Linked DNA regions of Homo sapiens: region 1 is linked to region 2. The links come from fine-mapping of genetic effects on gene expression. A gene starts in region 2. The other region holds a variant in brackets. All regions are shown on one strand. Distances are between the middles of the regions. Region 1 holds the start of SLC35C1 (solute carrier family 35 member C1). Region 2 holds the start of LINC02716 (long intergenic non-protein coding RNA 2716).

What was found. PIP is the estimated chance that this variant, and not a neighbour inherited with it, causes the effect.
Region 1: its variant is fine-mapped to the expression of LINC02716 in putamen (GTEx, PIP 0.98). The same link has a PIP of 0.9 or more in subcutaneous fat.

Annotation. Positions count from the first base shown.
Region 1 is chr11:45,802,733-45,813,672 of GRCh38, reverse strand. It overlaps SLC35C1 (solute carrier family 35 member C1), which reads right to left and starts at 8,524. Exons shown (of 2, transcript NM_018389.5): 1 at 7,337-8,524; 2 at 657-2,897. The coding sequence starts at 7,871. The coding sequence ends at 2,338. RefSeq lists enhancers at 6,246-6,305, 9,570-9,729 and silencers at 8,270-8,499, 9,230-9,399. The variant C/G (reference allele first, on the strand shown) is at 6,329.
Region 2 is chr11:45,766,393-45,776,295 of GRCh38, reverse strand. LINC02716 (long intergenic non-protein coding RNA 2716) reads right to left here and starts at 4,864. Exons shown (of 2, transcript NR_027134.1): 1 at 4,582-4,864; 2 at 3,938-4,303. RefSeq lists an enhancer at 4,671-5,172.

The DNA of each region.
Region 1 (10,940 bases), 37 kb before region 2:
GGAGGTTGCAGTGGGCCAAGACCGCGCCATTGCACTCCAGCCCTGAGTGACACAGCAAGACTCTGTTAAAAAAAAAAAACAAAAAACAGTGCTGGGTATTGGACTCAGAATGCTGGGGTAGAGTTAAGTACCAAGCTCTGAAGGCACAGAACTCTGAATCCTCCTCCTGCCTCTTCCTTCCTGGGGCCCTCTCTGAGCCTCAGTGTCCTCATGTGTAAAAAAAACAGATCAGTGACGGCTCCCACCTAAGGGGCCACGGGGAGTTGTGAAGATGAACTTCACAACTTCTCAACTTCACAAGGGTGGATGTACAACACTCAGCACAGCCTATGGCCCCCAACAAGCATCCAGTAAATGGCAATTACGACTAATAGGAAACTTCAAGTCTGGTCACCTACCTTCCAGGAAGGAGCCTGGTATCCTTAGAAAGAACCAGCTCCTAGAAAGGCTGCCTGCTGGTGGGTGGGCTTGGTGAAGGCAGGGATGAGCCCTCCTTCCTGACAGATCCCCAGCTCCCCTCCACCCCAGGGCCCTGTTCACAAACCTTCTTCAGCCCTGCTGCCTCTGACAGGTCCCAACCTCCCCTCCACCCCCAGGCCCTGTTCACAAATCCTCTCCAGCCCTGCTGCCTCTTCCCTCAGGCCACACACACAGGATCTTATGGATTCTTTATTGAATCACAAACAACTCAGGGCATCAGGCCCCAGCAGCTGCATTAGAACCCATCTGGGATTGTGAGGGGACTGGAGAGGGAGGGGGGAGAAGACCCGCTCTCCCTAGCTTTTCACTATATAGAGTAAAAACATCAGAAATCACCCCAAGAGAAAGGACATACCAAATGCCCACCAGAAGGGCCAGGGACTGCAAGCCACCCTGAGCGCAGGAGGGTGTGGTGAAGGGTGGTATGGCCCCGAAATTTGTGTGTGTCCCCCACTCCCCCTGCAAATTCACATTGGAATTCTCACCCCCAAGGTGACAGTATTAGGAGGTGGGGCCTTTGGAGCTGATTGGGTCATGGGGGCGGAACCCTCATGAACAGGGTTGGAGTCCTTATAAAAGAGGCAGGAAGGAGCTTGCTTGTTTGTGCTTCTACCATTGAGGATACAGCGAGAAGGCACCATCTATGGATCGGGAAACAGCCCTCAGCGGAGTCCGAATCTGCTGGCCTCTTGATCTTGGGCGTCCCAGCCCCCCAGGACTGTGAGCAATACGTTTCTGTTGTTTGTAAGCCACCCGGCCTACGGCATTTTGATATAGGAGCTCGCTGGACTAACAGTGGGGCCAAGCAGGCTCTGTCAGCCACAACCTCAGGGAAGAATGTAAAGGTTGGTGTCTTACCATCACAAGGCAAGCGGCTCAGAACCAGCTGTAACACCTCCCTTGCAGAGATCTAGGGGCGCCAGACACAGCTGGGGTGGAAGGCTCCTAGTCTGGACCCTTGCTCCATCAGCCCCACCTGGGGAGGAAGGCTTCTGGGGAGGTAGAACTGGGAGAAGAGAGAAGCAGCTCCTTGGCTCTGCTTTCAGAAGGCTGTTACCTGGGCCAGGTGCTGGGAGACCAGAGGGACAGGTGCCACTCAGGGCCAGAGGAGCCACGCAGGACAATGTGATGTTAGGGACTGGGGGAGGATGTTAATGACCCTGCTTAACCTCTAAGAGAAGCATGGTTCCCTTGTGTTCAAAAGCTGGACATACAGGGTGTATAGATGGTGAGCACTTTCTCACAATCCACCCCATTCCCAGGCCACTGCCCAGCAGCCCCTGGGGATCTGCTGGTGTCAGAGGGAACTCGCTCATTTCCTCCCTCAGTCCAGGCCACACTTTCCTCCAAAGGAAGGCCGGTCTGTGGGCCCAGGGTGAGGCTGCCTGCCCACCGCAGACGGAAGGCTTCCCAACCCTCTCCAGGTGGCTGTGGTAGGGCCATCTCCCCTGAGTACAGTGAAGCCTTTGTGGCTTTGCCATTGCTGTCCCTTCAAGGTTGTTGCCTGTCCCTGTCCTCAGAGTGATGTGGAGGCAGACAGGCCCTGGAGGCAGAAGGAAGGGGTTCAACTCTCACTAGGGTGCTCCCTCGGGAAGGACAAAAACTCAGAAATACGAGAGGATAGAGAAGGGTTTGGCAACTTTCTGGTATTACTTGTAAACACTGGTTCCTTCAACTTTCTGATATTACTTGTAAACACTGGTTCCTTCTCAACCACCGTATTCTGATTGGGTCTATAAGTAGCACCCAGTCCACACCACAGCACGCTTCTGGGGTCCAGGAGACCGCCTTCACTACTGTGCTGGCCCCGCCTGTGTACGGGCCCCGGGGCCGGGCCATCCAGGGTGCCTGTGGTGCTCACACCCCCATGGCGCTCTTCTCGCTGTCTTTGGGGCTGGGCTCCTCCGGAGTCTTCTTCATCTCCCAGCCCCTGACCCAGGTGTAGGCGGAGGAGCCGCCCAGCACCATCATGTTGCTCGTCCACCAGAGGAAGCTCTTGGTCTCCTCGTAGTAGAGCACGGCCAGCACTGTCTGGGCACAGGCCTTGGCCGTGCCCGACACATTGTGGGTCAGCGGACTGGTGAACTTGATCTGCAGTCCTGTCACGTAGCCGATGGCAAAGCCAAACAGGCCGCCCAGCGTCATCATCCCCCAGAAGTGGGCACTGCCCAGCTGGGCAAAGTCACGCAGGGCCTGAAGCTCCCCGAGCAGCAGGAGCAGGGGCAGGAAGAGGATGCAGGCGTTGACGTTGTTGTAGAAAGTCAGGCGCCAGATGCTGCCGTCCACCGCCGGGAGCACCTTCGTGGTGTAGATGGCGTTGAGCGAGACACAGAGGCTAGCCAGCACGCCGAAGACGGTGCCCAGCCACGACAGGGTGCCTTCTGCCCCCTCCTGGTCCACACCAAGCCAGAAGCCCCCTGCAGTGGGGAGAGGAGGAGTGGGGAAGGGTGAGGAAGAGGGATGAGGACGAGGAGGAAGAAGGACAGAGGATCAGACACCAAATTTCACAGACTGAGTATTGCGGCCCTCCCCGTTCCTCCCCAGGCCTCCCTCCAATAAGCACAGCCAGAGTCTCCACTGCAGGCAAAGCACTCCACATGAACTATGGGAGCCGCCCAGGGCAAGAAAACCTCCTCTGGCAGCTTATCTGCTAGCAGAGGAGAAAGACATTAAAACAAATCTTCCCAGTTACTTCTTTAATTACAATTGTAAGAATTGTAATGAGGTCCATAAAGTAGTACAAGGTGCTGTGAGAGCCTGTAAGTGGGCGACTGTGCTGGCCTGGGGCATCTGAAAATAACAGTTGAACTGAGTTCTGAAGAATGAGTGCCACTTAGTGGTTAATGTGATTTAAGGTGACCCTGCGTAAATGACTTCCAGTGTCTAAGCCTTGGCTGCTTCTTGCATGGAATGGGAGCCTATGATGTCATCATGGGGCACATTAAGTTAGAATCTCTTGTGTCATTTGGGGCAGTGACTCTGAGACTCTCATCTTGTGTCACTTCCTGCTCAAAGAGCTTCCGTGGCTCCCCACTTCTGCCATGAGGACTACACTCCTTGGCGTGGCAGGCGGGGGTGCAGGCCCTTCCTCTGTCCTATGGTCGCCCCAGCTTCCCTGCTCGTCTCCCTGCTTCTCACCCTGGGCCTCAGTGTCCTTGTTCATGTCCTGTGCCAGAAACACCCTCCTCCTTTCTGGGGGATTCTACTCATCTGTCAAGGTCAAAGTTGGCTTCTCCTGGGGAATCCTTTCCTGATAATCCCAGAACCTGGACTCTTACTGCCTCGCTTTCCTGCAAAGCCCCTTGCCTGCTCTGGGCTGCTGGGCCCCTGCCCATGGTGACAGTCTGGTCTTTTTAGCCAGATCCCATGCTCCCAGAAGCCAGGGGCTGAACAATGCATGTTATACTTCCTGCCACAGCATCTGGCAACACGGGGCAGTGGGGAAAGTTTTGGGGTCAGAGGGATTTAGCCTCCAATCAGGCTCTGCAATTTAGAAGCTGAGTGGCCTGGGAGAAGTTACTTAACCACTCTGAGCTCTCTGGGTCACCTCCCTGTCCTCCACTCCAGCCAATCTACTCTCCACCTTGCAACTGATATGATCATCCTGAAGTCCAGATCGGTCCAGGCTGTGCCCTGGTGTGAAGCCTCTCTGTGGCTCTCCACTGCCTTCAGGAGAAATTCCACTCACTCACCACAGCTCTTAGGACCTGCACCACGTGGAGTCGGCCTGACTGGGCAGCCTTGTGTCTGGTGAGTCTTGCTGTGGCCCAGCCATGAAGAAGTGCACGTGCTCTTCCTTCTATCTAGAATGTTCTGTCCCTACTTCTTCCTCTAAACCCAGTTTCTAAACTTCCTCCAGAAGGCCTGCTTAGACTGCCCTGTCCCCGGGTCCCCTCCCTTGCCCAGAGCTCCCACAGCCCCTTTTATGCATGCCCCATCACAGCCCTTACTATGCTAGCGTAACTGTCACCACCATGCCCTCCAGGAGTGTAGGAGCTGAGGTTACCTTTTCCAAACTTGTATCCCCAAAGCCTGGCATGGTGCCTGGCATGTGTTTAGCCACCAATTACTAGTCGTGGAATGAATGAATGAAAGTTGTTATGGAGGTGGTTGTATTAAAGGAGACAGGATACTTCCTACATCATAGGCACTCAACACACAGCACTCTTCTCTTTTTCTCTTTGTTTTTTGAGACGGAGTCTCGCTGTGTCACCCTGGCTGGAGTACAGTGGTGCGATCTTGGCTCACTGCAACCTTCGCCTCCTGGGTTCAAGCGATTCTCGTGCCTCAGCCTCTTGAGTAGCTGGGATTACAGGGATGCGCCACCATGCCTGGCTAATTTTTGTATTTTCAGTAGAGAGGGGGCTTCACCATGTTGGCCAAGCTGGTCTTGAACTCTTGACCTCAGGTGATCTGCCCGCCTCAGCCTCCCCAAGTGCTGGGATTACAGGCATGAGCCACCATGCCCAGCCCAACCACAGAGCCCGACCCTCCTCTTTCTTGACAGAACCTTTGCACAAGGGGTACCCACAGACCTGCTGGGGGTAGGGTGAGGGGGGCAGAGGGCTGCACCACCCACTCACCTGCTTGGCTACAGCACCCCTAGCCCTCCTGGTGGTTACCTTCTGAGTCCAGAAGCAACTGCAACATCAATGTTCTAGAGCGACTCTTGCCCAGAAAGAACTTTTTTTTGAGACTGTGTCTTGCTCTGTCGCCCAGGCTGGAATGCAGTGGCGCGATCTTGGCTCAATGCAACTTCTGCCTCCCGGGTTCAAGCAATTATCCTGCCTCAGCCTCCCGAGTAGCTGGGATTACAGGCACATGCCACCACGCCCGGCTAATTTTTTGTATTTTTAGTAGAGACAGGGTTTCACCATGTTGGCCAGGCTGGTCTCGAACTACTGATCTCAGGTGATCCACCTGCCTCAGCCTCCCAAAGTGCTGGGATTACAGGCATGAGCCACTGTGCCTGGCCCAGAAGGAGCTTTGAAAGTTACTGTGTGACATGGGGGGCTAGGAGGGGAGGCCTAGAATAGTTGCCTGAGACTCGTCTTCCCCTACAAGGAGGAAGAAAGAGGAAACATTGCAGATAGGGAGCCAGGTCCTGGGCTGGCAGAGAGCGTCCACCTCCCTGGCCCCTGTCCCAGTCAGGCACGCCCGTGAATGCACCATTCTCAGAACCTCACCACTGGTTACTTGGATTACCTTTGGGATTTGGGCCCAGTTACCCTAGTGTCTTCACCTTCCTGCAAGCAAATTCTCCAACTAGGAGCCTCTACCCCTGAGGCCACTCCTGGCAGGGTCAGCAGGAATGAAGTAGAGAGCCCTGGGGCATCTGAGGAGGACAGGGAGGAGGGGAGGTACACCTGTTCCCTGGAGAGGGAAATGGAAGCAGGCTGGGAGAGTTCTGGCAGGGGGGGTCTTGCAGCTTCCCCTACTCTAACTGTGACCTTCTCCCTTCTCCCCTCTTGGACTTAGACCCAGCAGCCCTAGATCCAGCAGCTGCTCAACAAGGGGAAACATTTTCTAGGACAGGTGGCATGGGATGGGTCCCTTCCCCCACCAACCGGTGCATCTAGCCTGGGACCCTGAGCCATCAGCAAAGAATATGATATGTAGGCCAAATAAGATAAACTTTATAGCACCAGGAAAAACCAGCATAGGTTCAAATGAAGACCCCATTCCTAGATGACGCAGCCCTGGGAAGACTCGGAGGGAATGGGATGCTGGAGGCTCTCTAACGCAGCATGGGGCCCAGTAAAATATGGGCCCATCTAACCTGTGCTGTCCCATACCATAGCCCTCAGCCACATTTGGCTACTGAGCCCTTGAAATGTGGCTAGAAAAT[C/G]AGGTTGTAACATCTGCAAATGAGGAAGTGAATGTTTAACATTTTGCTTAATTTTAACTAATTTAAATAAGTGGCCAATGGCTACTGCATTGAATACTGCAGTTCTAACCTCCAAGACGAGCAGAGGGGATAGAAGCACAGGCCTGGGAGTCTGGCCAATCTGGGTTTGCATCCCAGCCTGGCTGCTTGCTAGCTGTGTGGCCGTGGGCAAGTAATGTAACATCTCTGAGCCTCAGTTTCCTTGTTTGTATAGAGATGACCGCTGGTAGTGATGCCACAACCCAGGGGATCTCTGGGAGAACAAAGGAGATGCTATATGTGAAATAATTAGCATAATTTCCCCATCAATAATTATTATTTTCTGAGGGTCAAGTCCAGGAAGACAGCTGAGGCCTCTCAAAGCATATTGCTTGCTACTGTCTCAGGCGCTATCCTGAGCTGGCAGAGAGTGATGGTATATTTATTAAAAGACGTATTGTCCTCTACTAAGAGCACTGGCTGGGAAATCAGGACACCTGAGCTCTTGAGAAACAATAAAGTACAGTGGTCGGGCATGTGAACTGTGAAGCCAGATTGCTTGAGTTCAGATCCCAGCTCTGCCACTTATTAGCTGGGTGATCTTGGACAAGTTAGTTAACTTCTCTGTGCCTTGGTTTTTCCCTCTGTAAAATGTGGATTATAATCCCATCTTGTTATGAAGATTAGCTGAGTTAATATGGCTAAGATCCATGTGCCTGGCACATTTTAATCACTCAACAAATGTCAGTTGCTTTTGCTGCTGTTGTTACTATTATTATTACTATTGTTCTTGCCCCGGCTGGGCTCCTAACTTGCTGGGTGACCTTTAGTAAGTTACTTGCTCTCTCTGTGCCCCCAGGCTCTTTCTCCTATGACTGCTGCACCAAAGGAGCTGGGACAGATGAAGTCCTAGGATGCCTAGAAGAGTTGTTCTTCACTGCTTCAGTCCCCATGACCACTCTATCCCCCGTGGCCCCAGCTGCCACTCACCGATGATGATACCGCAGGTGAGCAGGGCATAGAAGGAGGTGGTCTGCTTGAGCAGCAGGTAGGAGAGCAGCACGTTGAAGACGGTGGTGAGTGAGCGGCCCACATTGTAGAAGGCCACACCGACGTACTTGAGGCAGAGGTTATTGAAGGTGATCATGCCGATGAAGACCACCGACAGGGGCAGGACGCTGCGGGCCACCCTGAGGTCCAGGCGCAAGCTGGGGAAGTCCACGGCACCAGGGCAGCAGGCGGCCAGAGCGCTGAGGCCTTTGCACAGCAGCGTGGTCACCAGGCACTGGTAGAAGGTGACGAAGATGGGGGTGTCCAGCCGCAGGGAGGGGCTGTCCAGCAGGTACTTATTAAGGAACACCATGGAGATGGAGGTGACCCAGTAGAGGGAGACCACCAGCGCGATCTGCAATGCCCGCAGCAGAAAGGGCTTCTCCCCGTTGGCCTCTGCCTCTGCAGAGGGGTCTGAGGCCCCGGTCAGCGCCATGTGCAGGATCCTGGACCGCTTCAGAGGGGCCCTATTCATGGTAGCAGAGGAGCTGGGTCACCCCGCGGCCAGAACTCTGATTCCCTGGAGTCCAGGGCAGTGAGCTCACTTGTGCTCTCCGCAAGGAAGCCGCAGCCCTCCATTGTCACATGTGGGCTGGCCTAAAGGCCTCCCCATTGTCCTCATGGATTGAGAAGTTCTGCTTTGGGGTGAGCCCAGTTGTGCTGCTCCACAACCTACTCCCACCCCGAGGGGGCTCTGAGACAAGACACAGGGCAAGGGAGAGGAATAGGATAAGGCGGTGAGGCCAGGACAGAGAAGACCTGTGAGGGGAGAAGAGGCTGGGGCCTAACAGGGAGGGGTCGCAGAGAGAAGGGAGGGGAGAGGAATGGCAGGGCGGGGCAGGAGTAGGTACGCGGGGCGAAGGTGCAGGAAAAGGACGCGTGGCAGAGTGGGAAGAGGTGCCGAGAGGGCGTCATGGGCGGCTGTGGGAGGGAGGGGCGGGCAGGGGGAGGGAGGCGTACAGGGAGCTGCCGGAGGCCGGGCGCGGCTGGAGGGAGGGCTGCGGAAGGGTCAGAGGGGCTCGGGGCTTGGGGCTGAAGGACGCGGGAGGGGGCTGGGCCGGCGCCCACGTCTCGCTGCCTTCCCGGGCTCTGTCGCCGGCTCAGCCCAGGAGCCTCCGGACATCCGAGGCCGACTCCCCGGGAGGCGGGCCCTGGACTCACTTCCTGACACGCCCCCACGTGGCCTTAAAGGGCCCGCACGCCCCGCCTTGCCCTTAAAGCGACAGCCCCAGAGAGGCGGAGTTCGCCAGTCCCCAGCCCCGCCCCTGCGCTCCGCTGCCCGCTGCTGGCGGGGGACCTCGGCAGCCACAGGTTTTTCTGGGTGCTTGAGCCTCGCCCTGCTTCCTGGAAGGGCTCCATCAACCTCGCCTGCCCACCCTCAGCTCCGTCCGCCCCGGAGCCTCCGTCCCCCGACTTGGCTAGGCTTGGCTCGCAGGTCCACTTCCCGGAACCCCGACCCAGGACCCGGGCGGCGCTACATCAGCCTGGACCCCTCCACCTCCGGAGACTCGCGTTGCAGCCCCGCGTCCCTCTGCCAATCCGAGCTCACTCTTCCATAACAATGTTGTGGTCCCCTCCTTTCCCCCCATTTTCACCGCCCCCAGGCCCTCTCCCAAGCCCGAGACCCCCGGCAGCGCTCCCCGAGGCCGGAGGCCACGCCGCCTCTCTCGGACTTCAGTTTGTCCTCCCTGTGCTCCTGTCGAGGTCCTCTGGGCGGCCCGGATCCGAGATTCCAAAGGCTCAAGACAGCATCTCTTACCCCTTCCAGAAAATACTGTTTCCCCGGCCGGTCCAGCCGCATCAGCTCCCGCGTCCCTGCCTGTGTCCCCGGGCCGCGAAGGCGACCTGGCGCTCACCTCCTCCGGTGCACTGGGCGCCCGCCCCGCGACCCCGTGCTGCATCTGCAGCGCCGCACCCTGGGCCGCGCCCGCGGGATCGACTTCCTGCTTTCCGCCCCGGGCCCGGGCACCTTGCCAGCCTCGCCGGCCTGTTCGCGGCATGGGCCCCGGGGGTGCCGGCGGAGAGGCGGTGATCCGGACGGTCGTGGGAGGAGGCCCTCTCCTCTTTCCAAGGCTACTCCTGTCCCTGGTACCCCCGCCCGCCCGGGACCCGGCTTCAGTTACCGCAGCTGGCACGTCCCGGGACTTGGCTGTATCCCTGGCCCGCCGCGCTACCGGCTTGCACTTCCAGAAGTGCGTGCGGGGACCGCTCGGATTCTTCCAGCTGGCAGTGAGGGGGAGGGTTCCCCGCCCCTTCCAGGGCCGGGGCCTGGGAAGTCTAGCCTGTGGTCTGCCACTCACCAGGCAGCCGGGGAGACCAGGAGGATCGACTTCTCTTGGTTCGCGCTCTAGCACCTGCGTTGGGCAGGCCACTTTCTCCGACGGCCTGAGTTATCTTCATGGTAAAACTAAGGGGCTAGGCTTGACCTGTGGGTCCCAACCTTCTTGCCCAGAACTCTAGGTGGTATGGTCGAACATAGATGTTTGTAATATTTCAAGCACCATTTAATTAGTGCCATTTAATTAACGGGTAAGATGATGTCATGGCTGGGATTTGTTTTAAAATACTAAGAATACTTACCAAAAATATTTTTTATTTTTATTTATTTATTCTTTTTGGGACGGAGTCTCGCTCCGTCGCCCAGGCTGGAGTGCAGTGGTGCTATTTCAGCTCACTGCAACCTCCGTCTCCCGGGTTCAAGCGATTCTCCTGCCTCAGCCTCCCGAATAGCTGGAATTACAGGCGTCCACCACCACGCCCGGTTATTTTTTGTATTTTTAGTAGAGACCGGGTTTCGCCGTGTTGGCCAGGCTGTTCTCTAACTCCTGACCTCAGGTGATCCGCCGGCCTCGGCCTCCCAAAGTGCTGGGATTACAAGCGTGAGCCACCGTGCCTGACCTCAAAAAGATTTTTTTTAAAAGGTTGATAGATTAAATAAGATAAGCCATTGATAGTTGTAGCTAGGCGTAGATACACAAGGACCCATTATAAGAGTTTCCTTACTTTTGTGTACATTTGCAAATTTCCAGAATAAAAAGGTAAAACCTATATAGTACGCTTAAACTCTCAGATCCTAACTGCACAAACCTTCACTGGAGCTGAGCGCAGCCCTGGGTGGGCTGTAGGGAAATGGGAGGGCTGCAGGCTGCAGTGAAGTAAACAGCTGCCCCACAACGAGCCGGGCCCACACCCTACCCTCTTCCACTAGCCCCGGGTACTAGCACTCCCCTCTTCCTCCTCAAGGAATGAGACTCTGCTTCCTAGTTGTGGGCTGTTCTCCACCTGGAGGATACCATCTGGTTACCTTGTCACTTTTGGAACTAAAATATCCCTTTGGGGAAAGAAAGACTCAAGAGGGACTGAGCTGGTCTCCTCAACCCCACCTGGAGAGTCTACCTCTGGGATTTTCCTTTGAAGCTGTGGGTTTTGGTTCATTAAGAGCAATTCGTATCTGTTCCAGTCTCTCCTCTCTTATGCCCGAGAGTTCACCATGACAAACAATTTAGTGACAGACAGGGCAAACTTGTCCCTGAGAGGCCCTGGT
Region 2 (9,903 bases):
GTGTCCTCCCTCCCATTGCTGAGCAATTCTCCTAGGACCTGTGATCACAGGCCAGGGTAGGAAGTGCTTGGGTCCTAACAGGGGGGTAGTCACTTTCATCTGGGAAATAATGGCATGCAAGCCTGGCACTGACAGACTCGGGGCATTTGGACACCTATGGAGAAAGGGCTGTCTAGGTGGTGGGCGTGGTACAGGAGAAAAAAAGGTGGATCTGGGAAACATCAGACACTGTTTCTTGTATCATAGACTTTCCCTCCCAGTCCAGAAGGGCTTCCTGGAGGAGGAAGAATTTCAGGCTGACATTAGGACCTGGGTTTGATGAAACTGAGTATAGCAATTCTTTAGTATTATCAGGCAACATAAATCTCTACTCCCAGCTATCTGTCCTCTCCCCATGCACACTTATTGGCAGCTGGCACCTTTCGTGACTCACATGATAAAGATTTTTAGAAATGTAACTCAAGGTAGGAAGGACATAGACACTCTTATAGTATTATTGGATATGAAAATTATGCAGGTGGGTGATTTCCCCTAGGAGACAATTCTATGTGAGTTTTAGACATCTTGCCGGAAGCTAGGCCATGATAAGGATCCCATCTCCTTTCCCCTGTCCTTATGATCAAAAGCCCCTGCTTCCCCATATTTTTTCTCATTCTAAAGCAGGGTCAGAAAGAGCCAGAAATGACTGAGTCTCTAGGTGGGAGGCTGGAGGCAAGCAGAAGAGGGGCTTGGGGGAGAGGGGAAGGGAGGCAGAGAGGGGAGGGAAGTGTGGGCCTGAGGTAGAGTCCTTTCTTTTATTTTTGTAGACTTAGGTTATTCACTGTGAGAGTCCTTTCTTTTTGCTTTGTTTTTTGAGAGAGATTCTTGCTCTGTCACCCAAGCTGGAGCGCAGTGGCGCGATCTCGGGTCACTGCAAATTACACCTCCTGGGTTCAAGCGATTCTCCTGCCTCAGCCTCCCGAGTAGCTGGGACTACAAGTGCCTGCCACCATGCCCGGCTAATTTTTGTATTTTTAGTAGAGAGGGGGTTTTGCCATGTTGGTCAGGCTGGTCTCGAACTCCTGGCCTCAAGTGATCCACCTGCCTTGGCCTCCCAAAGTGTTGGGATTATAGGCCTGAGCCACTTGCCCAGTGAGAATCCTTTTCTGACTGCATGGTTTGGCCCTGAGTGGACACTTGGAATTCAGGCTACAGGCCGGGAAAACATTACCATCCTTGCACCTGCTGGGTGGGCGCCCATTCTGTCCGACCAGGAAACAGGTCCCAGCACCCAGGTGCTAGGCATACAGCGAGGATAGCCTGGGTGTCTCCTGCTCTCAGGACCACCTTGTCTGGTGGGAGACATGCATATGTAGAAACATGGGAACATGGCAGAAGAGGCAGGAATGGAGCTGGGGGCTTTGGACCTAGGGCAGGCATGGCTGAGCTAGGCCATTTCATTCTCTCCTCCTGAAGAATGGCCCCCTTCCTTCTGCTATTGTTCTGTGGAGTCCTTCTCTGGTGCTTGGGAGCCCAGCCAGCAGTAGCCTCAGTGACCCCAGGGACAGGCCCCCACAACAGCAGAGGAGAGAGAGAGGGACCGGGGTGTTGGCGGCGAGGCTGGTGTGGAGATAGGGAGATGAATGTCTTAGCTGGAGGAGCTGGAGAAGTCCAGGCTGCCCATTTTTCAGAGGGGAAAGCTGAGGCCCTCATAGAGCAAGGGATTGTCCAGGGAAAGGAACGTGAGTATCGAGGAAGAAAAACCTGGGGGGCAGGGGCCCAGAAGAGAAGGCAGATCCCTCTCCACCCCACCCCAGGCAGGAAGCCCAGGCTCCAACCACCGCCTTTGGGCCAGGCACCTCTGCTGTCCTCTGAAGGGGTGGGGAGGATGAGTGTGGCTTCTGGCCCACTGGACATGCTTGCAAGGCACATTTGCAGATTTGCTGCTGCAAGGGGAGGGGTGGGCTGGTGGGGAGGTGCCGGCCTGATGGGGCACCTGGAGGGTGGAGAGACCCCTAGGCTCCTGTTTACTCCCCCTCAAGTCTCAGAGGCAGCCCAGAGGCAGAAGGAGACTTGATGGACACTTGCGCAAAGTCAGGGCTGGACCGGGCAATTCCACATGCAGTTCTCCTGGCTGGTGAATTCTTGAATTAGTGGGAGGGCAGGTTCACTCTCCAAAGTTGGACCATAAATTCTCCGAGGGGCAGGATCGCCTCACCCGGACACTGGCCCTTATACATCCCAGGGTACCAGTAAATGTACGCCTCATCCAGTCGCTTTTCTAACTGCAACAAGAGCGAAGGAATATTTATTGGGCACTTACTCTGTTCTAGACACTATCACAGCAGGGACTGCTTTTCATTCTGGCACCAATTCTGGGAAGTAGATGGTATTATTATCCCCATTTGACAGAGGTGGAAACTGAGGCCCAGAAAGGTGAAGTGCCTTGCATAGAGACTTGCTCAAGGTCACATGCAAATGGAATCAGGACTGGAATCCAAGTGGGTTCAGAGCCTGCCCTGAATGCCCCACTTTTCCTCCTTCCTAGGGCCCGTGGCACTCTTTCTGGGGCCAAGCTCAGGCCAAGCTGAAGGAGCCATTCTGGAAGCAATTCTGGGCAGACGAAGGCCAAGAAGCCAATTCACAGCGGTTGTGCTGACGAGTTTCTTGGCAATGTGGAAAGTCTGACGATCTTACAAATGTGTGAAACTGAGACTCAATTTTCCCTCATCCTACCTCCCCTTTCTACCCACCCTCCAACATGGATCTAAATATGGATGCTATATTGGGGGAGTAGCCCCCCTCTCTAGACTGCAAGAGAAGATGACGTTGGGGAGGAGGTGGGGCCAGCCAAATTGGGCAAGAGCGGCCTCAGATGATGCTGCCTCCAAAAAGGTCCCTGTGTAAGTATGAGGTGGGTGGCTGAGATTTCTGAAATCCGTATCTGAGATGACTAGGTGGAGTCATACATTTCCACCCTTCTGGGGTTAAGGACACAGCCTTAACCATTTAGGGTGACCATTTAGGGTGAAGTCACTGTTTATGGGAGTCTAAACTGTGACTTTGGCAAGGTGCAATATAAAAATGCTAATACATGTTTATGCACTAAGCTGGAAATAATGCCAAGCCCCTCAGTTAAAAAAAAACCTGTCAAGAATTGCAGTTTCCTTGAGTCGGAGGAACTAAGTGAGCTGTTAAATGAGGACTGTAAACCTGCCACATGGCGACGTTGCTTTGGTTATTAAATAGAAATACCTGCTTTCTATATGCATGCACTGTTGTTTACATGCCTCTGAATTTCTAATTTCTGCAGGAGATTCTGGTGACTGGTGTGCCATTTTCTCAATGTTCACAGTTATTATAACTTTAAATATTTTACCCATATCCTGTAACAATGTCATCCAAGTGTTCTTTAAGTGGTGGTGCTGAAAAACGCACCTGAAAATCGATAACATTGGAAAGGAAGTGAGATGTGATAAAACGTTATGAAGAAGGCCAAACCACCGGCAGGAAATGCTGCACTGTTAATTTAGCAGAGAGTGCGTTATGAAATATTAGCGATAATGCCAGGGAAATAAAAAGCAGCATTAAGGCAAAAATATGCCACAATTGGAGTAATGTATGCAACCTATCCTTTCTACTTTGCATTCATTTCTCTGGCAAAATTAGTCAGAAATTATGCACGCTTTGAATTATGCAAGTTTTTCAGGACCACATGCTTTGCATAAAACTCTACTGCCCTGAGGTTCTCAGTGGGTGGAAGAATGAGTGACCATATTCTAGGGTTATCTTAGGCCAGGCCGTTGTACCCTCCTGTCCTAGGTGGGGATGAAGTGACCTCATGTGTAAAATGGGACCGTTGGACTGGCTTGTCTTTCTTTCCTTATTAGACTATGTCGAGACAGGCACCATTATATTTCTGCCCCAAAGGTGTCTTTTTCTGGACGGATCCCACAGCTGATACCAAACTTGTCTTTATTAACTGTGAGGCTGGCCATTCAAACACCAGGTGCCAGAGAGGGTCCCTCACTCATCGGAATCCGGGTGGGATGAATCCTCGGAGGCAAGGTCCCTCCACCTTCACCCTAGAGTCACACAGAGACTTGCCCTGGCGGCTGGTGACAGGTGGGCGGGAGAAGAAAAGGCCCCTGGGGAGCAGGAGAAAGCCAGGTGCCATGGGGACCCAGCGCCGCTGGAGGGCAGCACCAGCACACAGCTGAGGCCGCCTCTCCCGGAGCCCGGAGGGAGCTGGGTTCCGGTCGCCAGCGGTGCCCGGGTGAGCAGTTCACCCTCACGTCCCTGCTCTGACGAAGTTTCCATTCTTCTGGAGAAGACAAAATAAACGTGAACAAATGAACAAGTGTGCATTGTCAGGCAGCAAGTGTTGGTACAAACAAGATAGTGGTGGGGGTGGGGACACCGTTAAATAGGGGCCAGGGAGGCCTAACCCGGGAGGGGATAGCTGAGATGCCACTTGAGTGGAGAAAACAGTCCGAGATCTGAAGGTGTTCATGGAGAGGGGAAGGGGCCCCTAGAGGAGTCGGGAAAGCCTGGGTCAGGGAAGACGAGAAAACTGAGGAACAGAGAAGCCAGGTAACTTACCCAGGGTCATAGAGCCGGTGAGCTGGGGACAGCGCCTGTCAACGCCCCAGAGCCTTCCACGGCACTGGTTTCTCCGACCTTCCTCTCTAAACAGGACCGTGACAGTGACAGTTTCTGCCCCACTCCCCATTTCTGACCGCAGTCCCCATAAGGAAACAGGGCAGGGATCACTGGCTGTGAGCCCAGCAAGTCCCCTCCCGTGGCTTTCTCAGTTATTAAATGGAAGGGTGGGTCCCCCCATAACTCCGAAGCTCCCCTCTCTAAGCGTCCGCGGGCCGGGAACGCCTGAATTCTGGCTCCCGAGCACCTTCTTGTGGACAGTTTTGGAATCACACGCTCAGCGAGAAAGGGTCGTGGGAAAATGGTCTGTGCTAATTTCGGAGAGGCCAGTGGATTGGAAGGTTATCACTGAGGGTGGGTGCACGTGTGTGTGTGTGTGCGCGCACGTGCATGCGTGCATGCATCTGTGTGCCTGTGTGTGTTGGTCTGTGTGTGAATGTACCTCTGTGCGTATCTGTGTGTATGGTTGTGTGTGAGCACATACTGCCCGAGCCTGTGTGTGTGTGAGTGTGTGTGTGCACTAATGTTTGTTTATATGGGCACAGGCACACACATGTCCATGTCCATGTGTGTGTACCTGCATCTGTATTTTTTCGTCTGGTGTATGGGCTTGTTTTTGTGTGCCTGCATGCATGTGCCCATGTGCGTGTGTGTTTTGGGAACTGGGACACAGAGGATGATATGAGAAGTCCCCAGTCTTTCTCACAAAGGCCTAACCACTCTCCCTGAAGCCAGCTTTCTCCCCTACTTGCTTCTGTCTGCACCATCACCTGAGTTCTCCCACCTGAACTTTTCACCGACATTTTTGATGATTTTTCTGTTTTGTGTCCGTTGAGGCTCATTTGAATGTTACAGATCATAGCTCAAGAAATGATTCTCAGGCCGGGCATGGTGGCTCATGCCTGTAATCCCAGCACTTTGGGAGGCTGAGGCAGGTGGATCGTCTGAGGTCAAGAGTTCAAGACCAGCCTGGCTAACATGGTGAAACCCCGTTTCTACTAATAATAACAAATTAGCCAGGTGTGGTGGCGTGTGCCTGTAATCCCAGCTACTCGGGGGGCTGAGGCAGGAGAATCACTGGAACCGGTGAGGCAGAGGTTGCAGTGAGCTGAGATCCCTGGGTGACACAGCGAGACTCCGTCTAAAAAAAAAGAAAGAAAGAAGTGATTCTCCTCTAGTCTACTCACCCAAATCATGAGTTTCACTTCTCAGGTGGGCTGATCACCCACTGTCCTGTTGAGACCTGGGGACTTGTACAAAGTCGTACCCTGGAGGGTTGAGCAGAAAACCAGGCACATAGTAACTAAGACAATGGCGCGTTAGCAAAGCACTCCACACATCCCGTTCACATGTGTGTCTTACTTGACTCACAAACTGATCTTTCATCCTTTTTTTTTTCCTTTTTTGTGGTGAACAGGGTCTTGCTATATTGCCCAGGCAGGTCTCAAACTACCGGCTGATCTTTCAAGCCTAGGCAAGGTGAGGCTAATTATTCCCATTTTACAGATGAAGACACTGAGGCTCAGAGAGGGAAATAATGAAAATAGTACTGCAGGAACCATCTAACCAATATGCAAACTCTCTCATCCAGTTTTCATAACATCATCAATTCCCTTCTTTAAAAGACAAGGAGATGGAGGCTTTAAAAATGTAAGGCGAGTGCTTAATGCCATATAGCCAATCAGTAGTTGAGGCAGGATTTGAATCTCGCTCCAGAGATTAAAGCCCAAGTCCTAAACACAATGGCAGGCGTGAGGGCCCTGGGCACACACTGACTCAAGCTCTTTCAGCCACACACTGTCCCTTTGCCATGCCTCTGGGGTCCTAAGAACATCCTCCTCTGAGCCCACAGGGAGGTCATTCCCCATCCTGGGTGCCCCTGCTCCTCTCCCAGATGCGGGGCAGGTGAATCTTGTAACCTGTGTCACTCTCAGAGGCTGAGATGGGGACTGAGCATTAATTATGCAATAACCTCGCTGTGGTGTGCCTAATTGTCTGATAACCATAATTGAATCTTATGGATTACACCAACATTATTGCAGGGAGCAGCTTAAGGCAGTTAACAGAAGCTGCACTCACTTTGTGATATCTTCCTCCTGTCTCCTTGCTGGCTGGGCTGTGAGTCCTTTCCTGGGGGCTGAGGGAGGCCTCGAGGTGCAGGGGGCAGGCAGGAGGTGAGTGACAGCACAAATGTCGCATCACCTTATCCCCCCGAGGGCACCATCTTCCTGGCTGAGAAAAGTCTGTGTGGCAGGTGGAATTATCATTTTGTAAATGAGAATGTGGCATCAGAAGGCTGAGAGACTCTCCCAATTTCAGTCTTGCTCATTGCTACTGGTCCTTGCTAGCATCATCTGGGACTGTTTAGACGTGCAGCATCTCAGCTGGGCTCGGTGGCTCACGCTTGTAATCCCAGCACTTTGGGAGGCCAAGGCGTGTGGATCATGAGATCAGGAGTTTGAGACCAGCCTGACCAACATGGTGAAACCCCGTCTCTAAAAATTAGCTGGGCATGGTGGTGCGTGCCTGTAATCCCAGCTACTCAGGAGGCTGAGGTAGGAGAATTGCTGAACCTGGGAGGCGGAGGTTGCACTGAGCCGAGATCACGCCACTGTACTCCAGCCTGCGTGACAGAGCAAGACTCCGTCTCAAAAAAAAAAAAAAAAAAAAAGAAATGCAGCATCTCAGGCCCCACCCTGGACCTACTGAATCAGAAGCTGCATTATTTTTTATTAAATGAATTTTTTTTCTTTAAAGAGATGAGATTTTGCTCTGTCTTCCAGGCTGGAGTGCAGTGGTGCGATTGTGGCTTGCTGCAGCCTCGAACTCCTGGGCTTGAGAGATCCTCCAGCCTCAGCCTCCCTAGTAGCTGGGACTACAGTCGGAGCCACCATGCCTGGCTCTCAGAATCTGCATTGTAATAGCATCTCAGGTGATTTATTTTCACGTTGCCGTTTGCTGAGTGCTGGTTTATGTAATTATTTATTCATTGCCTATGTGGGATCCATTGCCCTTTCTTGTGTCAGCAACACCTTGACTTCCATTTGGGAAATAACCCTTCTTCCCATATGGGAGACCCCTAGCTGTACCCTTACTCCTACCTCCCTCAGGCATTGACCCCAGGCCAGGCCAATGAGTCAGTTCCAAGATCTTTGAGGCACTGTTGAGGAAGACGTGTTTGATGGAGTTTTGCTGAGGCTTCTTCATTCCCTCCCTCCCTTGCATGGTTCACTGTGGGTGAATATTCTTCCCCACACCATCCATGGTGAGCTCAGCCACTGACTTGCTTTGGTCAATGGAATGTCGGTAGAAGTGATGATGTGTGGGTTCCAAGCTAGGCCTTAAAGAAGTATCTTGTGTTTCCGCTTGCCCCTCTAGAGCTCCTGCCCACCATGAGAAAGGAAGGTACACCCAGGCGACCATGGCACCTTCATCTGGAGTCCAGGATGGAGACTGTGGGGCAAATTGAACCTAACCAGAGACTGGAGTCCAGCCTAACTCTGATATTAACAACCCCCCAACTAACCTGCAGACCCATGAGTATGAAAGGAATGGTTGTTATAAGCAACTGAGATTTTCAGAGTGCTTGTTGCATGGCATTGGTGCAGCAGACACCTGACTGGTATAAAAGACATACTTTCTTTCCAGGGGGATTGCTAAGCTGAATTTGGATTTTAGGTGTTATCTTGTCACTAGGAAAGCAGGGCCTGCCTAAGGGCAAAACCAACCCAGAGGGAAATGGAGCTGAGATAGGATGAGAGCCCTGATCATGATGACAGCCTTTGTTTTCATGGATCCAGCCTCACAGGAGTTAGTCAACTCTTTCAGTCTCAAGGAGTAGAGAGCTGAAACTTCGCTGGCTTAAACCCAAGAAGGAATTAGCGGCTCACATAGCTCAGAAGTCTGGAGGTGATGTGGGTTTCAGGTGAGGCTTGAATCAGTAGCCCCTGGACCAGTGTCCTTGTCTCTCCACTCTGGGTCCCATTTTGCTGGTTTCATCTGGAGGCTGGCTCCCCTTTGTGATATCGTAAAATACATATTGAGTTGTTGTCCACATTTCCTGGCATGTTACTCCTAAAATCTATGGAATCTCCAAAGTGGTAAGTGTCTTTTTGTATGCTAATGAGTTGACAGTTGGCTGGCAGCCCCTAGGTAGCTTGAGGATGGGGGCTACTCCAGAAAGTTCAAGGCAGGATTAGAGGACTGGGGCTTTCAGCCCCACTCCCATTCTCTCTTAGAGGGGAGAGGGGCTGGAAGTTACGTTGATCACCAATGGCCGATGGCTTAATCAATCACGCCTGTGTAATGAAGCCTCCATAAAAACCCTGAAGGACAGGGTCTGGAGAGCTTCTGGACAGCTGGACACACGGGGCTCCTGGAGGATGGCGCTCTGCTCCCCCATACCTTGCCCTATGCATTGCCCATCTGTGTCCTCTGTGGTATCCTTTATAATAAGTGAGTCAACGTGTTTCCCTGAGTTCTGTGAGCTGCTCTAGCAAATTAATCCAACCAATGAGGGGATTGTGGGAACCTCAATTATAGTCAGTTGGTCAGAAGCACAGCTAAAATACTCTGGGACTTGTGATTGGCATCGGGAGAAGGGGAGCATCTTGGGGACTGAGTCCTTAGCCTGTGGAACCTGACGCTATCTCCAGGTGGGGAAGTGAACTGAATTAGAGGACACCGAACTGGTGTCTGCTGCGTAATTGATTGCTTGCTTACTATGTGGGAACGCCTCCCCAAACACCCATCTGGTGTAAGAAGCCCACTGTGAGTGTATAGTGGGAGAAACAGTCTGCTTATCCATGTATTCTCAGACCCTCATTGGAGCACGATGGCGTCCTTGTTCGGGTCTAACAGGAGAGAGAGTGTTTGTTCTGGAAGCGAGGAAGCTTCTTTCTCAGGAGCTGGCAGCAAATGTCTCAGGTCTCATGGCCTCAGGTCAGGTCACATACCGTCCCTGCACCAATCTCAGAGGCTGGAGACAGAATGTGCTGATGGGCCAAGGCTGGCTGGCTGGGGGGCAGGTTAGTGTCACTGAACAGCACAGAGCCTCAAGAGAAATAGGGCTTGGCCTGAGGAGAGGTGTTGGGGATGCTGGCTGGGAAGACGCAGGAGTTCCCTATTGCTGCTGTAAAACAGCATCACAAACGTGGGGGCTTAAAGCAACAAACATTTATTCTCTCACTTTTTTTTTTTTTTAGATGAAGTCTTGCTTTGTCGCCCAGACTGGAGTGCAGTAGATTGATCTCAGCTCACTGC